7 linked regions of the Homo sapiens genome follow. The protein of the gene in region 1 purifies or fractionates together with the protein of each later gene. This does not show direct contact. Each region holds a gene or a part of one and is shown in the gene's direction. Other genes may lie near its edges. The genes, in order: CLTA, LSM1, SH3D19, SORT1, AP2A2, APPL1 and NSDHL.

What was found.
Region 2: the proteins of CLTA (region 1) and LSM1 purify together in Homo sapiens (affinity purification with mass spectrometry; one large-scale study listed by BioGRID and IntAct). This does not show direct contact.
Region 3: the proteins of CLTA (region 1) and SH3D19 purify together in Homo sapiens (affinity purification with mass spectrometry; one large-scale study listed by BioGRID and IntAct). This does not show direct contact.
Region 4: the proteins of CLTA (region 1) and SORT1 purify together in Homo sapiens (affinity purification with mass spectrometry; one large-scale study listed by BioGRID and IntAct). This does not show direct contact.
Region 5: the proteins of CLTA (region 1) and AP2A2 purify together in Homo sapiens (affinity purification with mass spectrometry; one large-scale study listed by BioGRID and IntAct). This does not show direct contact.
Region 6: the proteins of CLTA (region 1) and APPL1 purify together in Homo sapiens (affinity purification with mass spectrometry, with the first as the bait; one large-scale study listed by BioGRID). This does not show direct contact.
Region 7: the proteins of CLTA (region 1) and NSDHL purify together in Homo sapiens (affinity purification with mass spectrometry; one large-scale study listed by BioGRID and IntAct). This does not show direct contact.

The regions. Positions count from the first base shown.
Region 1 is NC_000009.12:36,204,421-36,207,920, forward strand, and holds part of CLTA (clathrin light chain A), read left to right. Parts: intron 1-300; exon of another isoform or gene 301-3,500. UniProt on the Homo sapiens protein: Clathrin is the major protein of the polyhedral coat of coated pits and vesicles.
Region 2 is NC_000008.11:38,162,839-38,166,493, reverse strand, and holds the end of LSM1 (U6 snRNA-associated Sm-like protein LSm1), read left to right. Parts: intron 1-2,653; coding exon 2,654-2,824; 3' UTR 2,825-3,155; downstream 3,156-3,655. UniProt on the Homo sapiens protein: Plays a role in the degradation of histone mRNAs, the only eukaryotic mRNAs that are not polyadenylated. Probably also part of an LSm subunits-containing complex involved in the general process of mRNA degradation.
Region 3 is NC_000004.12:151,319,106-151,322,605, reverse strand, and holds part of SH3D19 (SH3 domain-containing protein 19), read left to right. Parts: intron 1-3,500. UniProt on the Homo sapiens protein: May play a role in regulating A disintegrin and metalloproteases (ADAMs) in the signaling of EGFR-ligand shedding. May be involved in suppression of Ras-induced cellular transformation and Ras-mediated activation of ELK1.
Region 4 is NC_000001.11:109,314,419-109,317,918, reverse strand, and holds part of SORT1 (sortilin isoform 1 preproprotein), read left to right. Parts: coding exon 1-66; intron 67-960; coding exon 961-1,069; intron 1,070-3,140; coding exon 3,141-3,247; intron 3,248-3,500.
Region 5 is NC_000011.10:1,009,305-1,012,740, forward strand, and holds the end of AP2A2 (AP-2 complex subunit alpha-2), read left to right. Parts: intron 1-23; coding exon 24-93; intron 94-378; coding exon 379-513; intron 514-1,243; coding exon 1,244-1,321; 3' UTR 1,322-2,936; downstream 2,937-3,436. UniProt on the Homo sapiens protein: Component of the adaptor protein complex 2 (AP-2). Adaptor protein complexes function in protein transport via transport vesicles in different membrane traffic pathways.
Region 6 is NC_000003.12:57,234,229-57,237,728, forward strand, and holds part of APPL1 (DCC-interacting protein 13-alpha), read left to right. Parts: intron 1-1,337; coding exon 1,338-1,436; intron 1,437-3,263; coding exon 3,264-3,323; intron 3,324-3,500. UniProt on the Homo sapiens protein: Multifunctional adapter protein that binds to various membrane receptors, nuclear factors and signaling proteins to regulate many processes, such as cell proliferation, immune response, endosomal trafficking and cell metabolism.
Region 7 is NC_000023.11:152,848,063-152,851,562, forward strand, and holds part of NSDHL (sterol-4-alpha-carboxylate 3-dehydrogenase, decarboxylating), read left to right. Parts: intron 1-2,202; coding exon 2,203-2,361; intron 2,362-3,500. UniProt on the Homo sapiens protein: Catalyzes the NAD(P)(+)-dependent oxidative decarboxylation of the C4 methyl groups of 4-alpha-carboxysterols in post-squalene cholesterol biosynthesis. Also plays a role in the regulation of the endocytic trafficking of EGFR.

The DNA.
Region 1 (3,500 bases):
TGTAATGGTGTGATTCAGCCAAGGGAAAAGTTACTTTCCATGGAACCCTGAAACGAAAGCTGGGTGTCATGAATACACCCAGATCTAGTTACTTTGGATATGATTATAGACTTGGTCATGTTGAGTCTCCTCAATATAGCCCTGCCCCCTGAAAGCCACTTCATGAAGGGGTCCGTTGGCAGGAATATGTGCTTTGTAATTAGGCAGCCAAGGATGTTCCAACATGATTATTTTAGAATTGAGGGTTCTGTGGGTACTTATTTGTGCCTTAAAAAGTCTTGAATTGACTTCTTAAAAATGTTCTGTTTGAAATAGATTTTATTTAGTTACTGATGGTTAAGGAGTTGTGAGGAGAAAAACGCTTTCATTCTCATATCACTACTCACCAGCAGCTGGGCTTTAATGCCCTACACTTAGAGCCCTTCTTGGAAGCAGCAAAGAGAGGATATGTGGTGTTGCTTCCCTCAGGGCAGGCAGGTTCAGAGCCCAACTTTCACTGAATAGTCAATCCATTCACTTCAGTGTATAAACGGGCCAGACCGAGCCTGGGGATATTTTTAATTTTCAGGGTAGAGCCTTGGGTTCTCGTATGCAGAGGCAGGAAGCAGGTTGGGTTAAGTGCCCTTGTCTCTGGCAGCTCTGTTAGACAGAGATGTGGCAGGAGAGAGAGCTAACGGCTTTGCCAGCCAGCCAGTGCTATTGTGGGTCCAGTATGACAGAGCAGTTGGACTCTCTTTTATATGCTAGCAGCCCTTCAGCTCATTGGATTCCGGCTTGAGCCTGTGTCCTGGTCACTTTCCTCTGGGGGCGGTGTGCTCAAGGAGTGCCTGTCAGGTTCCATGTGGAGTCCACAGGACTCCACAGTCCCAGTCCCACAGGACTGCTCTCTGGTGTGCAGGCTGGGTTGCCAGTGGTGATGGCTTCCATCAGCTACGTGGGGCTGTTGTTGAGCCTGTGGTCAGTAGGTGGTGCTGACAGGTCCAGGCTCCTGTGTCCTCTGCTCCCTCAAGATGATTTTCTCCCAGGTGGAAGTTCAGATCGGTAAAGCCGAGTGGGGACTGTGTGCAAGCACCCTGCGAGCCCTGAGAACTCCCCCAGCCTGCGACCCCAGCATTTAAGTTTAGTCTGAAGTACTGTAGCTGTGCCGACCCTCCCCGCTCTGGGTCTGTGATGCGTCAATAACTTAACACAAGTTTTCAAACTTAGATAATGAATATGTTGGTAACAGCCTTTCTGTTGCAGAAATTTTTTTCAAGGAAGTTTTGCTGAACTGTCAAGAAAGGGATATTCTCTGTATACAGAATCCGTTGTTCTCAGAGGGAGTAATGACACCTGTTTTTTTTTTTTTTTTTTTTTTGAGATGGAGTCTTGCTCTGTTGCCCAGGCTGGAGTGCGGTGGTGCGATCTCGGCTCACTGCAAGCTCCACCTCCTGGATTCACGCCATTCTCCTGCCTCAGCCTCCCGAGTAGCTGGGACTACAGGTGCCCGCCACCATGCCCAGCTAATTTTTTTCTGTTTTTAGTAGAAACAAGGTTTCACTGTGTTAGCCAGGATGGTCTCGATCTCCTGACCTCGTGATCTGCCTTCCTTGGCCTCCCAAAGTGCTGGGATTACAGGCGTGAGCCACCGCGCCTGGCCATGACACCTGTTTTTAGGAGCTCAGTCTTAAAAGTTTAGTCCCTCCAGGCATTGAATTTGGGCCTTGGTACCTTTCTGTACTTGGAACTGTAGAATGCTGGGTAAGCTGGTCTCACAGATGAACCTCTTAAGTTCCAGAGAGAAGGAACTTCCCCACTGCTCACTGAGAATGTAGAGCTGCTTAGGAAGCAGGTCACTTGCCTTGTGGGAACCTTGCAGCACAGGGCTGACTCTTGAGAGCATAACGCTAGTGGCACACTAGCCATTGTCACCAGGGCTCTAGGACAGAAGAGATGGTTTTTACAGTTTATTCCAGTGATTCTTCACTGGTTGGAGGTGGGATCCATTTGAGAGTCACTTTGGGGGACTTCTTCCAAGGGTCTACACCCTCCCCTGGAGATTTTTATATTGCTGACTACTCCCCCTCTCCATCCATGTTTGACTCTAAACTTTAGAGTTCAAAGGAATAGGTCCCATTTAGATGTATAAAGTAATTCATCCTTGTTATCTGTCTATGGGTAAAGAGTGAATATTTTTAGAAAAGAAAATGGGGGCCGGACACCGTGACTCAACATCTGTAATTCCAGCACATTGGGAGGCTGAGGCGGGCAGATCACTTGAGGTCAGGAGTTTGAGACCAGCCTGCCCAACATGGTGAAACCCCATCTCTACTAAAAATGCGAAAATTAACTGGGTGTGGTGGTGTGTGCCTGTAATCCCAGCAACTCGGGAGTCTGAGGCAGGAGAATCACTAGAACCCGGGAGGCAGAGGTTGCAGTGAGCTGAGATTGCGCCACTGCACTCCAGCCTGGGCAACAGAGCGAGACTCAGTCTGAAAAAAAGAAAAGAAAAAAGAAAACGGGGTGCTCATTTCAAGCAAGTATGATTCTCTCTGGGTGACTTCTGCAGTAGCTAGATGTTAAGGGGACCCGAGAGATAAGGCAGAAAGATGAGAAGTTTGAAAGAGGAAAGTCGGAGACAGGAAGGGCATCCAGTTAATTGTGAGAGCATCCTCAGGCCTCCTGCCTTCCAGCTGCCTCACCACTGGGTCACCAAAGCACTAGGAGCACGTCGCGCCTGGCACTGCACTGGGGGTGGGTGTGCTGTACTCTATTGTCAGTCCCCAGACTGCATCTCCCTTCTTTTATCCCAAGTTGAGGCCTAAGTGTCACAGTACAAGAGCTGTGAATTATTCAGTGACAGCCATGGAAAAGAATTTCCTTTTCATAGCCAGCCAGCCAGAGCAGTGACTGACTCCTGCAGCTGGATGAGTTTGCTCATCAAGAACAACCCCAGAACATTTCCCCTATTACAGGTAGCACTTGTGCTTGTCAGCTCTTTCAAGGCTTGAGAAGGTTTGGGGAACCCACAGTTCTCAGAGATGGCAAACATTTTTTTCTGTGCCCACTTTGAGGCTGTTTATGGAATGAAGTTCTGCATTGTATTCGTGCCTCCAGAGCTTGTCCTAGGTCAGGTATTCCTCTTCCCTCCCCTCTCCTAAGCCTCCCTGAGCCCCTTCCTGCCTTGGCTGAGGATTGCTACTTTCAAGTGAAGGACAAATAAGGGGAGGGCCACCTGTGTGTGTGTCTGATTTTCTGTTTGTTCTGGGCCTGCAACCTTGACAGGGGATGTGCTTGTCACTGAGGAGCTCTTTGGTCTTGGGCTAGCTGCAAAGGAGCAAGAGCCTGACATTCAAACTTTTGTTGTCTTAGTGATGATTTGACAGGAGTCATGAAACCTCTACTCTTCTTGTGGAGGGAAACCCAAGTTGAAATCGATCAGGTTTAGTCCTTTGTGTAAACTAAAAGGGTTATGGGTTTATAAGCCAGCCTGCCTTGCCTTTTCCTCCCACTCATTCTGC
Region 2 (3,655 bases), on another chromosome or scaffold:
TAAGGACAATAAACTGAATCTATGGACAGTGAGATACTTTTTTAGCAAGGTTCTTCTGCATTATGACATTGGTTAGCAAATGTTTATAAGGGCCAGGCACAGTGGCTCACACTTTGGGAGGCCAAGGCAAGAGGATGCTTGAGGCCAGAAGTTTGAGACCAGCCTGGGCAACATAGCAAGACCCCATCTCTACAAAAAGAAAAAAGATTTAATGCCAGATGTGGTGGCACATGCCTGTAGTTCCAGCTACTTAGGAGGCTGAGGCAGGAGGATCACTTCAGCCCAAGAGTTTCAGATCATGGTGAGCTGTGATTGTGCCACTGCACTCCACCCTGGGCAACAGAGCAAGATCCTGTCTCTAAAAAAATGAAAAATGTGCTCACATTGGCAGCACATCTACTAAAATTGGAACAACACAGAGAAGATTAGCACGGCCCCTGCTTAAGGATGACACGCAAATTCATGAAGTCTTCTATATCTTTAAAAATAATTAATGAAAAATGTTTATAAAACATTCAAAAATAAAAATATTAAGCATACTATGCCACATTTAAGTGAAAAAACGAATTAAAGTCAGTATTTGCATTGTGGGTTTTTGGGAGGGGTTTGTTTTTGAGGCAGCGTCTCACTTTGTTATCTAGGCTGACTGCAGTGGTGTGATCACAGCTCACTGCAGCCTCAAACTCCTGGGCTCAAGTGATCCTCCCCCCTCAGCCTCATGAGTAGCTGGGACTATAGGTACACGTTACCACGCCCAGCTAATTTTTTATTTTTTACTTTTTTTTTTTTTTCCTTTTGAGACAGAGTCTTACTCTGTCGCCCAGGCTAGAGTGCAGTGGTGTGATCTTGGCTCACTGCAACCTCTGCCTCCTGGATTCAAGTGATTCTCGTGCCTCAGCTTCCCGAGTAGCTGGGATTACAAGTGTGAGCCACCACACCTGGCTGGGTTGTTTATTTTTTTTAAGTCAGTATATATGTAGAAAAATTGTAGGGATATTATCAAAATGTTAATCCTCCATACTGGAATTATGGATAATTTTTAAATTTTCCTTGTTTGTCTATTTTCCATATTATCTACGATGAGTGTGTATTTTTTAAATAAGGAATTTTTTATTAGGCAACAATTTTTTGTTTTTTTTTGAGATGGAGTTTTACTCTTGTCACCCAGGCTAGAGTGCAATGGCGTGATCTCCGCTCACTGCAACCTCCGCCTCCCAGGTTCAAGTGCTTCTCCTGCCTCAGCCTCCCAAGTAGCTGGGATTACAGGCACCTGCCACCACGCCCAGCTAATTTTTTTTGTATTTTTAGTAGAGACGGGGGTTTTGCCATGTTGGCCAGGCTGGTCTCGAACTCCTGGCCTCAAGTGATCTGCCCGCCTCGGCTTCCCAGTGTGCTGGGATTACAAGCGTGAGCCACCATGCCCAACCTAAGCAGCAATTTTTTAAATAGTGGAGAAAAATATTGGGACCAAATTGGTTTAGTAACCTAAATGGTCTGCCGAGGTTCTCCCTAGAAGACTTGTTGCCGTAAAGGGAAAAAGAGTCTTGTTACAGTTTAGATCTAGACTACAGAGCTGGTACGGTGGCGCACACCTGTAGCCCCAGCTACGTAGGAGGTAAAGGCAAGAGGATCCCTTTTTATTTTTGTCTTTTTACTTTTTTTGAGACGGTCTTGCTGTTGCAGAGGCTGGAGTGCAGTGACACATTCATGGCTCACTGCAGCCTTGAACTTCAACCTCCCAGGCTCAAGCAGTCCTTCCACCTCAGCCTCCTGAGTAGCTGGAACTGTAGGTGAACACCACCACACCAGCTTTTTTTTGTTTTGTTTTTTGGTGGAGTTAGTTAGGGTCTCACTGTGTTGCCCAGGCTGGTCTCGAACTCCTAGGCCCAAGTGATCCTCCCACCTCAGCCTCCCAAAGTGCTGGGATTACGACTGTGAGCCACTCCACCCGTCCTTAAAATAATTAAAAAAAAAAAAAAGTCTAAGGCCACATTGCCTCAATAACCTCCCTCTTGGATTCTCTGCAGTGGGGGAGATAGCTGTCTATAAGCAGCCCTAATTTTTTTTTTTAAGGAAATTAATCGTGGACTAATAGAAAATTAATCCTGACTAATATGGGATTTTGGATCACATAAAGCTCTGTTATACAAATACTTATTACTGCCTATAATCCCAGCACTTTGAGAGGCCAAGGCAGGCAGATCATGAGGTCAGGTTTCGAGACCAGCCTGACCAACGTGGTGAAACCCTGTCTCTACTTAAAATACAAAAATTAGCCAGGCGTGGTGGCACGTGCCTGTAATCACAGCTACTCAGGAGGCTGAGGCAGGATAATCGCTTGAACCCAGGAGGTAGAGGTTGCAGTGAGCTCAGATTGCGCCACTGCACTTCAGCCTGGGTGACAGAGAGACTCCATCTTGAAAAATATATACATATACTGATCACTATTAACCTCATTGTAAGTATGTATCCTATAGTAGTGTTGTCAGGCATTTCTTTGAAAAACTTACCGGTCCCTAGGAGAAGGATATTTCAGTTCCTGTCACAGTTATGAAAAATAATCTGAGCCTGATAGAGGAATCCATTTGCCTTGAGATCTGTGCTTTCTATTCTTGGTCTTCAGGTGAAGTTTTCAAACCTGTCTCTTTTGTAGGACTTGGAAAAGGAGAGTGACACACCCCTCCAGCAAGTATCCATTGAAGAAATTCTAGAAGAACAAAGGGTGGAACAGCAGACCAAGCTGGAAGCAGAGAAGTTGAAAGTGCAGGCCCTGAAGGACCGAGGTCTTTCCATTCCTCGAGCAGATACTCTTGATGAGTACTAATCTTTTGCCCAGAGGCTGTTGGCTCTTGAAGAGTAGGGGCTGTCACTGAGTGAAAGTGACATCCTGGCCACCTCACGCATTTGATCACAGACTGTAGAGTTTTGAAAAGTCACTTTTATTTTTAATTATTTTACATATGCAACATGAAGAAATCGTGTAGGTGGGTTTTTTTTTTAATAACAAAATCACTGTTTAAAGAAACAGTGGCATAGACTCCTTCACACATCACTGTGGCACCAGCAACTACTTCTTTATATTGTTCTTCATATCCCAAATTAGAGTTTACAGGGACAGTCTTCATTTACTTGTAAATAAAATATGAATCTCAAAAGTGTCATGTTATTTCCAAGTTTGAGTTACCTGTAATGAATAGATTAATAGATTAATTAAGTTTCTGCTCTCAAAGGTATAAGCAGTCCACATACTGGGATTTCCCCCTTCAGTCACAGTTTCAAGTAGCTGGCTACTTAGGAAGGAATATTTTTATTCCAGTCATCTCAGGGGTCCTCTCCTGTTTCCATGTTTGTATCTGTTAAGAAATACAAATGTTCGGCAGGGGCGGTGGCTCATGCCTGTAATCCCAGCACTTTGGGATGCCGAGGCGGGTAGATCACCTGAGGTCGGGAGTTGAAGACCATCCTGACCAACATGGAGAAACCCTGTCTCTACTAAAAATACAAAATTACCAGGGCGTGGTGGCGCATGCTGTAATCCCAGCTACTTGAGAGGCTGAGGCAGGAGAATCACTTGAACCTGGAAGGCAGAGGTTGCGGAGAGCCAAGATTGCACCATTGCACTCCAGCCTGGGCAATGAGCGAAACTCCGTCTCAA
Region 3 (3,500 bases), on another chromosome or scaffold:
TCTTTATAAAATGTATTTATGTTTCCCAGCTTTTAAAGTAATAAAATATCTTCAGCATGATTCTAAAATAAATAAAAAGCTCAGTTGAATTTTTTTTTTTTTTTTGGCAGAATTATAGGCAATCAAGTACTGAGGTCAATTCAGGAAAGGTTTTTTTTTTTTTTTTTTTTTTTTAGGCAGAGTCTTGCTCTGTCGCCCAGGCTGGAGTCTAGTGGCGTGGTCATGGCTCACTGCAACCTTCACCTCCCAGGTTCAAGTGATTCTCATGCCTCAGCCTACAGAGTGGCTGGGATTACAAGTGTGCACCACCATGCCTGGCTAATTTTTCTATTTTTAGTGGAGACGGGGTTTCACCATGTTGGCCAGGGTGATCTCGAACTCCTCCCACCTCAGCCTCCCAAAGTGCTGGAATTACAGGTGTGAGCCACTGCACCTGGCCAGTGAGGGTTAATTCTGTAGTAGCTCATGATGCATGAGATTAATAAGCAGTTATAGGAAAGTAAATGGGGAGCAGAGAGTATTCCATTGTTTGGGTTTCATGTGCTGAGGCTAAGGTGTCGTAAATCTGGCACTATGTGAAATATTTACTGTTGATGGTGGTATCCAAGATCCTTAATTGCCTGACCTGACAGAGAGTGGTAATATGAAAGCTAGACACAACACCTGAATTCTTGGGGGTGTCTCACTAATCCACCAAATGCCCATTACAAACAAGGAAGAGAGGATGTGGGTACACTAATCCAGTGGTTCTCAAACTTTTGCCACATGTATCTGAATTGCCTGAAGGCCTTGTACACGCTCAGTATCTGATCACTTGGTCTGGGATAGGGCCTGATAATTTTCATTTTTGACACATTCCCAGATAACATTTATGTTGCTGGTTCAAAAGGATGATGCACTTTGCAAACTCCATGTAATTAAGAGAGAAATCACACCCCAACACAGATTGTTAAATTCTAAGAAATAGTTCCTTTGGCTAATTTGTCCTTTTTAGTAGATCAGATGAAAACCCATGAGATAAACATGGAGATTTCCACAGGCTAACTTATAGGACTTAGTTTCCATTGTGGGTTTTCTCGGTAGCTTAAAGGATTTCATGGTTGATTTATACAGCCTGGCATTTATGATCAACTTCATTTTTGTTTCTTGGTTTTTTTCTTTCTGTTATTGATTGCATATTCTTCATCTCTATCTGCACAACTGAGATTGGTGTGTTAGTGCCACTGTGTTAGTGTTAGTTAGTGCTAGCCAAGGGCAAGAAGTGGAGGGTGGGGGGAATAGGCGGACGAGATTGGGTGACCAACTCTTCCCAGTTTCCCAGGACTTTTCCAGCTTTTAAAACTGAAAGTCCCCCATTCATGGAAACTCCTCAGTCCCAGGCAAATCAAGGATAGTCACCCTAGAGGAAGGATAGCTTGGGTGGGGGAAGAAGGGAGGATAAAGGCTACTGATAATGTTATTTATACTAACATCCCTGCTTTAGTCCAGGTGCTTTTTTCACTCAACATTAAGTTTGTAAGATTTATTTGTATTGTTACATGTAGCTGTGGGTTTTTGTTTGTTTTGAGACAGAGTCTTGCTCTGTTGCCCAGGCTGGAGTGCTGTGGTGTAATCTCAGCACACTGCAACCTCTGCCTCCCAGATTCAAGTGATTTCTCCTGCCTCAGCCTCCCAAGTAGATGGGACTACAGGTGCATGCCACCATGCCCAGCTAATTTTTGTATTTTTAGTAGAGGCGGGGTTTTGCCATGTTGCCCAGGCTGGTCTTGAACTCCTGACCTCAGGTGACCCGCCTGCCTTGGCCTCCCAAAGTGCTGGAATTACAGGCGTGAGCCACTGTGCCCGGTTCTGTTTTTTTTGTTTGTTTGTTTTCATTGTATAAATATATACCACAGCATTTTGCCTATTATTTTTTATTGATTTATTGGAGTTCTTTGTTTACCCAGGAATCTCAACTTTTGTTGGTTATGTGTGTTACAAATATCTTCTTCCACCTCCACTCTGGCTTACTTTTTCATTTTCTCTATGGTTTCTTTCGATGTGGAAATTCTTCATTTCAGTATAGATGAATTTATGAATCTTTTCCTTTATAATTTGTGTCTCTTCCCCCCTCACCCCCTTTAAGAACATGATTTCTATCCAAGGTCATGAAAATATTCTCCTATATTTCCTTTATTGTCCCCTAAAAGCTTTGTAGCTTTCCTTGGGGAGAAATGCCATAGCTTTCATCAGATTCTCAAACAGATTTGAGAATCTCTGCCTGACATACAACATTTTAATATTATTTCTCCAAAGGGAGGATATACAAGATTCTGGATCCTCCTCCCAACATCTGGAAGAGTAGTAGGCACATAATAGGGCTTACTAAATGCTAACTAAATTTACTCTTTCTATATTTTGATGTGTTTATGGTAAACCCTGGAAGGACTGATATAACTGTTGTCTGTTGTGCTTTGAGTAAAATAACTTTAATATCATCAGTATGAGGGCACAGAAGAACATTCACTGTGTTCACGGTGTACCAGGTGCTTCTTTATGTTATCACCTGTGAGGTAGGTATTATTTTCTTCATTTTATCATTGAAAAGACTGAGGCTCACAAACATTTAAGCAACTTATCCACAGTCCCTCAGCTAGTAAATACTGGAATGGTGATTTGAATGCAGGTTTTTTTTGAAGTGGAAGTCCATGTTTTTCCAGGTGATCACACTGACTGCTCATATAAGTCAGTTACTATTGATGCTCCACGCATTTATACCTGTATGCTGCTTGCTGTATTCTAGAAGTACTTTACATTTATGTGGTGCTTTTCTATTTATGAAGGGCTTTCACAACTGCATTCATTTGGATTCTTACAACAAACTGAGAGGGAAGAGGGTAAGTTTTTTGTTCCCATTTTAAAGATGAGTAAACTGAGACTCAGAAATGTTAGAAGGTTTTATCTAAAATTACACAACTAGGTATAGCTGAACCTCAGTCACCTCTATTGTGTGTTGCAAGTTGTAGAGGTTTTTTTAGTTGATTCATATAAGATGTCAGGTCATATCCTCTCAGAGTCTGTGGCTTTGTCTACTAAGTTAGATAGTTTTGAAAACTGCATTAGTTCTCTGGACCACCAGCTTACTGTTTTTTGTTATTAGAATTCCAAAGTTGTCTAATTTATTTTGAGAAAGTTATTTTAAGTTCCATGGAAACTATGAGTAGATTTACATGTTGTTTAAAAATCCTGTACTCATCACATTGTTTAAGAAGACCTGGGCCAGGTACAGTGGCTTACGCCTGTAATCCCAGCACTTTGGGAGGCCAATGCGGGTGGACTACCTGAGGTCAGGAGTTCGAGACCAGCCTGGCCAACATGATGATACCCCATATCTACCAAAAATACAAAAAATTAGCCAGATGTGGTGGTGGGCACCTGTAATCCCAGCTACTCGGGAGCCTGAGGCAGGAGAATCGCTTGCTAGGGAGGTGGATGTTGCAGTGAACTGAGATCACACCACT
Region 4 (3,500 bases), on another chromosome or scaffold:
AGAACTGAAGGGCCACGACCTGGAGTTTTGTCTGTACGGAAGAGAAGAACACCTAACAACAAATGGGTGAGGTGGCCTTTTCTCCCTTGTCACGATGGATGAGGTGTTCTTGTTCAGAGTGAAAGCTGCTTCTCTCCACACTGAGATCCAAGCCCTACTTTAGAGCACTATTTTTGGCGGGGTTGGGGAGGGGCAGGATATGAAGGCCTCCTTCAAGGGTCAACTACAGGAGGTGAGCCATGAGTGCTTGGTGTCAGAGGACTCAACCCCACCAACACCACGAGGCAGAGCAGGAGAACAAGCTCGGCCAGATCCTGCACCCCTGCCTCCCGCCCAACCACCCCCAGGAAGGGAGGAGAGGCGAGGGACCCACAGGCAGAATGACAGAAGCGTCCCATCCGCCATGAACGTCCATCGCTCGTCTGGCACAGTTTAGGCACAGCCAGGGAGAGCTCTGTCTGATAGGACTTTCTTTGGTGATGGAAGTGTTCTGTAATTTGCTGTGCCCAATATGATAGTCACTAGCCACACATAGCTGTGGACACTAGTGTAACCGAGGAACTGAAATTTTCGTTTTAATCAATTTTAAGTAGCCACCATATTGGACAGTGCTGCTCTAGACGGGCCTCATTACCTCGCTCCCCTGATAACTTCCCCTCTCCCATTTTGTACCACTTGTTAATGAGCTTTTTTGGGGTCAGATTTCTTTGGCACAGTCTCTTAGGTAGAAAGAACAGGCATGTTTCTGACAGCAGGGGACAGAGATGCTTAGTTTGCTTAAGGCCTGAAACTACACAAAATATCCCCCAAAACATCCCTGTGGACATTCCCCCCAGGCCTGAAACATGACGTAAGGATGGGAAGCTTTTCGGCAGCTTTTCAAATCTTGTTTCCAAGAAATAGGCAGGTACCCAGGAATACATCCTTATCTTCTGTTACCAAATCTTCTTTGCCTGGTAGGTACCGGAAAATTCCAGGGGACAAATGCCAGGGTGGGGTAAATCCAGTTCGAGAAGTAAAAGACTTGAAAAAGAAATGCACAAGCAACTTTTTGAGTCCGGAAAAACAGGTATGTTAAAATAGGTCTAGTTTTCAGGTACAAATGGGATTTTGTGTTCTGCTAAGAAAAATCAAAGTTAAAGCATCAAGAGTTTTGTTACTGATAAAAAGTGGTCAAACTACTTCTCTCAGGCTTCCCTTATACAGGAAGCTGTTAGCATGAAGGATGGGTCATGTAACCCAGTGATAAGCTCACCCTACTGAAAGCTCTTTTCTTATTGAGGGTTGGGGGATGATATTCTGTAAAGTTGTAAAATTCTTAAAATCATACAGTTGTGGAAATTTCTGAGGCTGAGAGTCATTTAGGAAAACAAAAAGGTTGTCTGTGGGCTGGGTACAGTGGCTCACACCTGTAATCCCAGCACTTTGGAAGTCCAAGGCAGGCAGATCACTGAGGTCAGGAGTTCAAGACCAGGCTGTCCAACATGGTGAAACCCTGTCTCTGCTAAAAATACAAAAATTAAAATTACAAAAATTAGCTGGGTGTGGTGGTTTACGCCTGTAGTCCCAGTTACTCGGGAGGCTGAGGTAGGAGAATCATGTGAACCTGGGAGGTGGAGGTTGCAGTGAGCCGAGATCGTGCTGCTACACTCCAACCTGGGCAACAGAGCAAGACTCCGTACCAAAAAAAAAAGGTTGTCTGTGAAGGGCCATGACCTGGAATTGTGCATGTGTGGAAGAGAAGAGCACTGGGCAATAGGTAGGGTGGATCTCTGACCAAGTCATGTTAAGTATGTTCAAAGTGAAAAATTGAGCTATGGTAATGGGCTGGTTTTGATTTAAATGAAGCAAGTTACCTGTCGGGCATGGTGGCTTACTCCTGTATAGTCCCAGCACTTTGGGAGGCTGAGGTGGGGAGATCAGTTGAGGCTATGAATTGGAGAGCAGCCTGGGCAACATGGAGAAACTCCATCTTTACAAAAAAAATACAAAAATTAGCCGGATGTGGTGGTGTGTGCCTGTAGTCCCAGCTACTCAGGAGGCTGAAGGGAGAGAATCACCTGAGCCTGGGAGGTCAAGGCTGCAGTGAGCCATGATCATATCACTGCACTCCAGCCTGGGTGACAGAGTGAGATCCTGTCTCAATTTAAAAAAAAAAAAAAAAAAAAAAGGTTATGAGGCTGCATCCAAATCTGTAGCACTGAACTACCTGTGGAACTGGAGATGTGTAAAGAGGAAACCTCTTGATAATGAAACACTAGACCAGCAGCATGACTTCAGATGCTCAACAGCAGGCCCGTTTCCCAATTCGTAATAGGAGAGGTCAAGCTGGATCACCTGCAGTCCCTCCTCTCTGCTGTTCTAAGGGATGAGGGACTGACAAGGGGTGGGATTAAGGAGATGATGGGAGAGGAGTGTGTGAGTGTGTGTATTGGTAAGGGGGCGAGTTCCTCCTTCTGTGCACCCTTGTCCTGGGCTCCTGGTGACTCTCCTCAGAGTGTTCGTGTGTGTGATTGCACAGGACTCCCACCCACAGGGACACAGCTTGTCCTAGAATCCAGCTCTGCCTCCTCTGGGATACATTGAAAACACACACTCCCTATTTCCCACCCAGAAGCAGGTAGGTCACATGCAAACAGTGATATGATAAGGCTTATTTATAATAATATATAAAAAATTAAGTAAACAAATAAATCTTGGTGTCATATAATGGCCTGCCTGGTTCTTCTGACACAGCTTCTTCCCAGATAATGGCCCTGTTCTAGAGTCATTCAGCCTACTGTTACAGTAGTCTCCCTTTCCTACTCCACCCTTAAGCCCCAAGACTTGTGAACAGTGGTAGTGTGAAGCAATCATACTTGATCTAGGCAGTTGCCCAGGCTTCCAGTGTAACTTTGACATTTAAACCACAGAATTTGAAGGTTCAAGGCAGTTGGAGCTAAGATGACTCTCTGCCAGCTATAATATTCTCCTGGTAACACTGAGATGGTTCATCTTGGGGGGTTGGAAAAGAGCCATCATTAAGCGCATCAGGACTGCAGATCATTCACAAAGAGATGAGGGGAATGAGTGGCTGCCTTGACCTCAGTCCTAGGATATGCATGCCTAAAACTTTTGTGTTTGTGTTTTAATTTCTCAAGAATTCCAAGTCAAATTCTGTTCCAATTATCCTGGCCATCGTGGGATTGATGCTGGTCACAGTCGTAGCAGGAGTGCTCATTGTGAAGAAATATGTCTGTGGGGGAAGGTAAGGAACACAGAAGTCAATCCAAGGTACTGAGTTCAAGCCAGAAGGCTGATCTAGGGCATATGGCTGAGTCTACTCTTGGCAAAAACTAGGTACTTGCAGTACTGTTCCTGAAAAATCAGGCCCAAATCTTCTCATGTCGTACATTTTTCATATGTCAACCATGGACTGTGCTTTCTGTGTCTGTGATGCGTTCCTGAGTGTATAAAACTGAGAAAGTCCACAGTCCTGTAAGAAGTGCACCCCTGCTGTG
Region 5 (3,436 bases), on another chromosome or scaffold:
CTCGCCTTTGCTGTTTCTCACAGTCCACAGCAGGAAGTGCAGAACATCTTCAAAGCAAAGCACCCAATGGACACAGAAGTCACCAAAGCCAAGGTAACACGTCTGGAGGGACGGCCCCGGGGGACACGCAGCCCGTGACCCCGCGCCAGGGTCTGGAGGGACGGCCCCGGGGAACACGCAGCCCATGACCCCGCGCCAGGGTCTGGAGGGACGGCCCCGGGGGACACGCAGCCCGCGACCCAGCGCCAGGGTCTGGAGGGGCGGCCCCGGGGGACACGCAGCCCACGACCCAGCGCCAGGGTCTGGAGGGGCGGCCCCGGGGGACACGCTGCCCGCGACCCCGCGCCAGGGTCCTCATTCTCCTGTTTCTTTGGACAGATCATTGGATTTGGTTCTGCACTTCTTGAAGAAGTTGATCCTAATCCTGCGAATTTCGTGGGAGCTGGAATCATCCACACGAAAACCACCCAGATTGGATGCCTGCTGCGCTTGGAGCCGAACCTGCAAGCCCAGGTCAGGCCCTCAGGAAATGGTGGAACACACTTGAGTTGCTTTTTATTCTGGCACAATGTACGTGGTGAGATGTGTAGCTCTTTAGTGCAGTTCAGTCAGTTTTGACAGATGTTGTTTAACCACCACCCTGTCAATACATGGTTGCCTCCCAGCCTCCCCGCAGCTGGCCACCGTGGAGCATCATCCCTAGTGCAGTTCAGTCAGTTGTGACAGATGTTGTGTGCCTGTTTAACCACCACCCTGTCAATACATGGTTGCATCCCAGCCTCCCCACAGCTGGCCACCGTGGAGCATCGTCCCACCATGGAGCAGCCTGGCCCTGGGCGGTGGCTCTCCCAGCTGTTCCTCTCTGTCACCGCGTTGTTCCTTCTCACCACGTCCCGTTCTGGCGACGGACACCTGTCTCCGTTTCACTTGGGTGGCACCCAGGAGTGCTGCTGTCGCCCAGGGCCTGTGTGTGGTTAGTGCTGCAAGAACATCCCACAGCTTCTCCAGGTGGCCGTGCCACTTTGCACTCCCGCCAGCTACGTACGAGACGCCAGGCGCTCCCATGCCAGCCCTCAGTTTTCATGCTGACAGTGTGTGTGGTGCTCAGGCCTCTGCCGAGTTGTGGGTGCCTCCAGAGAGTGGTCCCTGGGCATGGCCCACAGGGTTCTGCATGGCGGATCCTGGACCCGAGGGCTGTGTGAGCCTCGGCGTGCCCGTTGACCTGCTGTGCTCTCTGTTTCAGATGTACCGGCTCACGCTGCGCACAAGTAAGGAAGCCGTTTCTCAGAGATTATGTGAATTGCTCTCAGCGCAGTTTTAGTCCTGAGGATGGAAGACCAGGCTCGTGTGTCTTGTGTTGTCTTCGTCTGTGCCGTTTGTCTTCGTGGCCATCCTGCAGATGAGCACCGTGTCCAGTGCCACAGCACAAGGCGCCTCCCCGCCCCGCCGCCCCACACCTCTCCCCTTTGGGCTGGACGGGAACACACGTGTGTGGCTCAGGAGGAAAAGCTCAGCCTGGACTGTGGCAGCCACGGCAGAAGGTGGATCTTGGGATCAATTTTTATAAAAATCGAGACAGTTCTGTGGTTAAATCTACAAATTAAAGGGAAATTAGAAGTTGGCGTGAACGTGGCGTTTGTGGGAGTGTCACTGAGATGGCCCGTGCTGCCGCCCACCCCGCCTCGGAGCCTCTGGGAGCAGCAGTGCCACTGTGCATGGCGTGGGCTGAGCCTTGGTGTGTGGCCGTCCTGGTGGCTGCACACCTGGCGTCGTCCTGGGCCCTTGGGAGGAGCACAGCTGACCCTGGTTTTGCTGCAGTCCCAGCTGGACTGTTTTCCCAGGCAGGATTTTAATCTAGAATTTAGAAACATTTGTATTTGTAATGACTTCTGGCAAAAGCACGTGTCCTGGCCGGATGTAACTGTTCTCCTTTCCCAGCTCCTGTTTGTGAAGGGCGTCTGTTATGCTCCTGCAGTCGCCGAGGCCTTGGATGTGCAGCCAGGGGAGGAGCGTCCTGCCGGCCCCGCAGGGCCCCCAGGACTCCAGGGTAAAGTGTGGGCCGGTGGCGCAAGACTCAGAGGTGTGCTCGTCTCTTTCCTGTCAGAGTGGGCGTCCCCAGGCCACGGTGCAGGCCTGAGTCCTTCCACCGGCCCCGTCCAGTCGTCCCTGGAGGGGCTGTGGAGGAGGGACGCCTCTGTGTGGTCAGGAAGTGAAGGGGCCATTGGCCGCATGCCATGTGCCACCTGCGGCTTGTGTCTCACCTGTCATCTGGACTCAGCACCCAGGCTGCACGTCTGACACCTGAGAGGCGAGAGAGTGGGGCCGGCCTAGGAGCCAAGGCTGGGGCCTTGCGCTCTGTCCCCAGGATGGTGGCCTTGTTTGTCCTAAACACACCCAGCACAGGTTCTGGCTTCCTGACATGCTGTGGAGGCAGGGAGGGTGGGTGGCCACATGTGCTTGAGGGTTTTCACCCTGGCCCTCAGTTGCCTGCTGTGCGGGTCCCTGGGGCAGCTGCAGGGGCTCATGGACCCATCAGGGTCTCCACAGCTCCCCTGCAGTGTGTGCACCCCACAATGTCTGCGGCTCTTCTTCCGGCGTGTCGGGCTTTGATCACAGCATAGCCACGTCAGTGGCGTGCGCCTCTCGCACAGGCCATTCTGGGTCTGGTGGTGCCAGGTGCCGTGACACGCCGTGCTGGGCTTGTGCTGCAGCTGGGTGGTGTGGCCCTCATTCTCATGTTCCAGCTGCTGGGCAGTGCTCTGCCTGTGTGCTGCGCCTGCAGGCTGCGTGTGCTGCCGTGGATCTCCTGCATCCCTTGACCCCTCCCGCCATCAGAGGAAAGGCTGCTCCCCGAGGCACCGCTTCCCTGTGCGGCGCTGCAGAGGGGCCCTCAGTGTGGCACTCCTCGTCAAAGAAAAATAAAGGCTAGAACTGCACCCCGGATCACGCGCTTTCTTTGGGGGGAAAGCATCCCATGTAACCCTCATAGCTCCCCGGGGGTCGCGTGAGGCACAGACCCCAAGGTCCCCGACCTGTCCTTCAGCAGTGGGCTCACGGGCAGCGGGCATCAGAAAGTGACCTGCCCTTTGCTCCGCCGGTTTGATTCTGGGTGTGTGGTGGAGCTTTTTGGGACTCAGGTCATGCGGGAACCCCTCCAGCCTGGCCGCAGGGCTCCCCACTGTACAGTGTGTTGAGGTGCAGCCCAGGGCTCCTTCCTGGGGAACGGGAGGCCCCGTGGGGATCCTCCAGTTGATCCTACCACAGATGGTGCAGAAGGGGCTCTCGGGCAGATGGGGGTGGCCCCCGGAGGACGGTGGGCTTCGCCAGAGACGGAACAGTCCTAATGGAGGGAGGGCAGGGGCCCAAAGCCAGAGGCAGCTTCTCTTACCAGCCCAGACCCTGCTGGGGGCAGCCCTGCCCAACTGCAGATCCCAGG
Region 6 (3,500 bases), on another chromosome or scaffold:
GTGAGTATGTCTACCTTGCCTTTGATAGCCTTAGTTTCCTTATCTTTGACAAATTTTTATTGACATTCTTTTTTTTTTTTTTTTTTTGAGACGGAGTCTCCCTCTATTGCCCAAGCTGGAGTGCGGTGGCATGATCTCGGCTCACTGCAAGCTCCGCCTCCCAGGTTCACGCCATTCTCCTGCCTCAGCCTCCTGAGTAGCTGGGACTGCAGGGGCCCGCCACCATGCCTGGATAATTTTTTTGTATTTTTAGTAGAGATGGGGTTTCACCGTGTTAGCCAGGATGGTCTCAATCTCCTGACCTCGTGATCCACCCGCCTCGGCCTCCCAAAGTGCTGGGATTACAGGCGTGAGCCACCGCACCCGGCCTGACATTCTTAACATTTACTTATAAGCTTTCCCCCTTAAAATAAAGATAATTTAAAAAAATTTTTTTATTTTGAGACAGAGTCTTGCTTTGTCGCCCGCCCAGGCTGAAGTGCAGTGGCGTGATCTCGGCTCACTGCAACCTTCACCTCCCAAGTTCAAGCTATTCTCTTGCCTCAGCCTCCTGAGTAGCTGTGACTACAGGCACGTGCCACCACACCCGGCTAATTTTTTGCATTTTTAGTAGAAACGGGGTTTCACTGTGTTAACCAGGATGGTCTCAATCTCCTGACCTCATGATCTGCCTGCCTCGGCCTCCCAAAGTGCTGAGATTACAGGCATGAACTACTGTGCTCGGCCTAAAATGAAGATAATTTTTAAATGTGCATGGTAGAAAAATGACAAAACAAAACAAAAGCCAAACAATATAGACATGTATAAAGAAGAAGAAAGGAAAACCCCCAAATTGTGCATTCGGAAAAACCTAGTTAGCATTTTATATGCTGAAGAGTCGGCCATGTTGGGGAGGGTGTACTGTGGTATTTTTAGATTAGGACAGGAAGGGGTTTGGCCTCTTCTAGCAAAAACTGTAGAAGAAATAATCATACTAAATTATCCTGAAGTAAGACATTTAAAATATTTATACTACATGGAATGCTGTTAATTTAGCTTTGAACGTTTCTGTTGATTTGTTCTTAGTTTATAGAATTTTTAGTTTATGAAAATATACCTCTGTTGTTTCTCCTAAAGTTTGTGTGACATAGTTGGAAAATACCTCTGCTTTGTTGAAGTGAAACTAAGAACAAAAAAAAAAGACTTCTTAACATTACTATCAAAAGAGACAAAATAGATTAAAACTCAGAATTACTAGAACTTTAATATCCTACGATTTTTGCTTCCTTTAGAAAAAATATTTTTCCATCTGATTTGTATAATGATTAACATAAACTTATTGCTATTGTTTTATACAGACAAGGTCTTTACTAGGTGTATTTGAAGAAGATGCCACAGCTATTTCCAACTATATGAACCAGTTGTATCAAGCTATGCATCGGATTTATGATGCACAGGTAAAACACTAAGGACTAACTTGATGCTTTTAAAACACGAATCTTTAAGCCTCATGAGGACAGATAGTGTCTGTCTTGTTTACCACTGCTTTAGCCCTGTGTTAGGCTCATAGTAATAAATATTTGTTGAATGGATTAATGAACATTGAGTGTATTACAGAACTGACATTTCAACTACTAGTGTACAGTTTGTAGTACTACAAAAGTGATAGACGATTGAAGCATCTGCCCATTCTCCCCAAACATAGTTTGGGGGGAACCCCCCATTAAACTCACTGATAGTGATCTTTCCTAAGATTTGAATGAAGACCCCATGTCATCACTGGTATTTTCCCTAATCATGCTTATTACAATCTTATGGAGCACTTCCCCACCCCCACTTTTTTTTTTTTTTTTTGAGATGGAGCTTTGCCCTTGTTGCCCAGGCTGGAGTGCAGTAGTGTGATCTTGGGTCACCACAACCTCCACACCCCAGGTTCAAGTGAGTCTCCTGCCTCAGCCTCTCAAGTAGCTGGGATTACAGGCATGCACCAGCACGCCTGGCTAATTTTGTATTTTTAGTAGAGACAGGGTTTCTCCATGTTGGTCAGGCTGGTCTCGAACTCCCGACCTCAGGTGATCCGCCCGCCTTGGCCTCCCAAAGTGCTGAGATTGTACCCAGCCCCCTTTTTTTTTTTTTTGGAGATGGAGTTTTGCTAATGTCTCCCAGGCTGGAGTGCAATGGTGCAATCTCAGCTCACTGCACCCTCCACCTCCCAGGTTCAAGCAATTCTTCTGACTCAGCCTCCTGAGTAGCTGGAACTACAGGCATGCACTACTACGCCCAGATAATTTTGTATTTTTAGTAGAGGCAGGGTTTCACCATGTTGGCCAGGCTGGTCTCGAACTCCTGACCTCAGGTGATCTGCCCGCCTCGGCCTCCCAAAGTGCTGGGATTACAGGCGTGAGCCACTGCACCTGGCCAACACTTTCCCTTTTTCAGTGGAGGATTTGAAAGTTGGCTGCCTCTGTCTAGTTAAAAGAAGGCACTAAAAATTAGATGTACCTCTGGAGTACAAGAAGATGAAGGGTATGACTAAGTTTTCTTATTGACCAGCAATAAAATTTGAAGCTATGTTTGGATAACTTAATTATAAGCTTAAACAGCAACCTAGGTTCTGTAATATACTTTCTTTGGGATTAATTAAGCGTACAAGTTTTATTTTTTTCCCTTCTCATATTGTTTGCTTTCTGGCTTCACATTTTCATTATGTACTTAAGAGTTGCTATGTTGTTGTTTAGTTTTTCCTTGTGATCAGGCTCTGAAGCTTTGCTTTCTGACTACAGAGATATATGATTAATATGTTAAAGAAATGTTCTCTTTGTTATATTCACCAAAAAAACTAAATTAAAGTTTTTCATATGGCTGTGTTGCTATGTTATATGACTGGGTCAACCACATTTTGGTTGTATGTTATTAAGTGCTTACTGTAGTCTAGTATCAGCATCTACAGAGGGCAATAATCAGTCATCAACGTAGATGCTCTAAAGATTTTGCTAAGGTTATATCAGTTTATTTCTAGGCTTTAAAGTATTTAGTGCTTAGTTTTTATTAGCAAAAAACAAACACCAGGAACACTGCTGAATTCCTGGAGAGTGTCTATTTTATGGTTTGAGTTTTCTTTTAAAGTGCTTTAATGGTAGTACCCCTTTCCAGTGATTTAATGAAGGTTTTAAAAAACATGTACAATATTTATGTTAAGTGATAATAAATAAATTAGGTATTTAATTAGAAAAAACTAAAACTTTTTTCCCAGTAATATGCTAATTTGAATGCTTTTTCCATAGAATGAATTAAGTGCAGCAACACACCTGACCTCAAAACTTTTAAAAGAATATGAAAAACAGGTATTGTATATCAAAGTTTTAAAAGCATAATTTTAAAAGTATAGTATCTGTATAGATAGACTTTCAACAAGAATCCTTAAGTTTTCTTGAATTCACAGAATATGCCATTGAAATTTCATGATAGCACTTATGTTCAGATAATTTTAATGATTTAATATTAAATACAGAGGCTATCTA
Region 7 (3,500 bases), on another chromosome or scaffold:
CATGTTGGCCAGGCTGGTCTCGAACCCCTGACCTCAGGTGATCTACCCACCTTGGCCTCCCAAAATGCTGGGATTACAGGCATGAGCCACCGTGCCTGGCCCCTATTCTTAACACTGTCTCCAAGAGGTTGATCTTATAACTCACCTCAGTAACCCATTATGGAGTCTTGCTGTTTCCAGTCTTGAGTTTTATACTTGATTGTTAGTACATGTTCATTCTTGTCCACTGTGGCTGTGAGAAGTAAAAAGTGGTCATGAAAAGTTTCATGTGATCTCCTGTAATCACACAGCATTATAGGTATGATTATCACACATTTGACTTCCCTGGGGTAAAGGCCAGTTTGATTCCCATCACTACAAGGGTCTCCAGGGAACAGCCATTGGCCTACTCATCCCAAACATTATTGATAGAACATTTCAATATCATAAAATAATCCACGTCACATTGTCCAAGAGTAGCGTACTGATTAGTCACAATTAAAATCGTGAAATGAAATCACACTGGACTAACAGCAAGGTTGTTTTTTGAAGAGATTAGCAACCTTTTGAAACACCTGTAACTAGAGATGCCAAATGAAATAAACAAGGCAGTCTGAAATCTTTCAGGATGCTTTAGTAACATATCTAGTTCTGACTGTCTTTGGGCTTAGCCAGACTTTTAGTAAACTGCAGAAATCCAGGTTGGGAAACAGGCAGCTCAGAGTTATTCTAAATAGCTACAGTTTGCCTGTACAGCTGACTTGGGAGGAGGGGAGAAGAAAGGGATTGCTAGAAAAGGGATTGATGTGAGTTTTGTATTTAATTTGGCTATGACTTGAGGAAATATACATCTCAGTCCAGGTGCAAATCATGTAACCTGGTATGATTACATGTGTTTAGGAATAATCAGAATAAAGCCTAGAAAAGAACAGGTTGGGAAGTTAGTTTTGGGTGGTAGAAGAATGGTGAGGCTGATTTTGTTAGTAGATTGCACATGGACAGATGAAGGTAAAGTACAGTGCCAGCTCCAGCTGGGCCTGGTGGAATCCAGTATGAGTGCTGTTTCAGATGGGACACCCCAACTGGGAGGGAGGTGGATCTAGAGAGGATGTCTGGCCCTGGCATCCCTTGAGTCTCTTGCATAGCTCAATTGTGTTGATGTTTAAGGAATAAGTAGGGAGATTTGTTTGTTTTTTAAATCTAGAACATAATTTCTTTAAGATCTTTCATTTCCACAAACCCAAGTTGGATTTACTGTATATGAGCTAAGGAAATTGGAGGTTGTCATCTTAAGGAGGCCCAGATACAGTTTTAGAAAGACCCTAGGGAGGAGGGATATCACAGGTCCTCCTCACAGACACCCATAGCCAGCTTGTCTGGTGTGCAGCAGCCACAGTTTGGCATCAACATCCTGAAATGAGGGTATTTAAGTGCCTGCATGTGCTACTGTGTCCTTTCATTATGCCCAGTCACCAGAGTTGGAATTACCCAAGGAATCGTGTGTGTTGTGGAGGCTGAGACATAAACACCATGGCTCTCCCCATTTCTTCAACTTCCTTGTAGTTCGGAGGAGGGAAAGCAGAGCCCTGGGCTCATCCATCCTCACTGCAGCCCCACCAGGAGATCCCATCAAGGCGGTCTTAGATTTCTAGGCTGAGGCAAGAAGGGGTTGGGCGATGAGCCCAGAGCCACACAGCCCAGCCCTGTTGTGGCCAGAGAGGGAAAGGGACTGACTTTGTCCTGCAAGTATGGAGACTGCTTTCTTCTTTCTGTTGTTTTCAGTGCAAGCTATCAGCTACCAAATGGCTGCCGTTTTGTTTTGTTTTGTTTTGTCCTTAGAGAAGCGCCCAGGGATCAGCTATCGGGAACAAGAAGGTATCACTGTTTTTTGGGGTATTTTTTAGATTGTCCAGTTTTGGTCATAGGTGGTTTGATTTCCTTTCACTGAATACAAAGCATGGATCTTGTCATCAAACCCAACCAAAGTCAATCTCAGTGTCATTCGCTATCTCTCTTCCCTCCTTACTGATCCCAGGAGAGAAGGTTAGGGTTGCACTAGTGATGGAACACCAGGATGATATAAAGCTTCCAACTTGGCTCAAGAAGAGTTCCAAACAAACAAGTATATCTGCCATTGCAGTGGCTCATGATATGTAAGTCTGGACTCTGTAGCTTCCAGTCCTCACTACCCTGGTCTTCCCCACCGTTCCTCTCTTTCCACAGGCCAAGAGATGCACAGTGATCGGTGGCTCTGGATTCCTGGGGCAGCACATGGTGGAGCAGTTGCTGGCAAGAGGATATGCTGTCAATGTATTTGATATCCAGCAAGGGTTTGATAATCCCCAGGTGCGGTTCTTTCTGGGTGACCTCTGCAGCCGACAGGTAATGGACCATGCAGCCTTGCTGATTTCCCACGAGCCCACGAAGGGAAACCACGATACTTCCCTTGCTCAGAAGCCAGCCAATTTGTTTGAAAAACAATTGTTTCATTGTGAAAATTTTCAAAGTTATAGGAAAGAACACCACATTCTTACTGCTTAGAATGAATAACCATCATCTCTGTCACAGATACTCAGCTGTGTCCTGGTAGCACAAAAGCAGCCATGGTCAGCACTTAAATGAACAAATGGCTGTGGCTGTATGCCAGTGAAACTTGACTTCAAAAGCCGTCCATGGGCTGTATTGTTCCAACTGCAAAACAAGTGTGTGCTGGGCCACAGGGTCTTGATTTTTTAATTGAGATATAATTCATGTACCACAAATTTCACATTTTTAAAGTGTGCAATTCAGTGATTTTCAGTACATCCACAAAGCTGTGCAACTGTCTCCCATGATCTAACTCCAGAATATTTGTATTACCCCAAAATGAAATCTTGTAGCCATCCCCTCTCTTCCCCTCCCAGCCCCTGGCCGCCACTCATCTACTTCCCATCTATGGATTGGCCTCTTCTGGACATTTCATATAAATGGAATCATGTAATATTTGTACCTCTGTGCCTGACTTTTTTCACTTAGCATGATGTTTTCAAGCTTCATCCATGTTGTACAGGTATGAATATCTTGAATTTTATTAGATGGTGCCAAATGGCTCAGCAAAGCTGCTATGTCAATTTTACCTCCATATCCACAATGTGGCACAAGCCCCATTGCTTCACATCTTTGCCAACACTGGGCATAACTAGACTTTTTGGTGTTGCCATTCTGAGAAGTATGAAGTGGTGCTTCACTGATGTTCAGAGTCACATGTCCTCCCTGACCAAGTAACCAGCCACTCTGCCACTGGGTGATCGGCTTTCAGGCTTCCTCCTGTGTGAAATGTTTGTCTGTGTCCTTTGCCCCTTTGTCTTTGGGGTTACCTTTGCTTCCTTGTTGATCTAGTTGGGATGCCAATCCTGTGCCCGTTGTACTTATTATGGATGGCTTCCCTCAGCCTGTCACTGGGCCCTTATTCTTGGCTTTGGTGTCATTCGCTATATGGTTTGTTGATGAAATATTAAGGCCATTGCTTCCGCTGCAAAGTT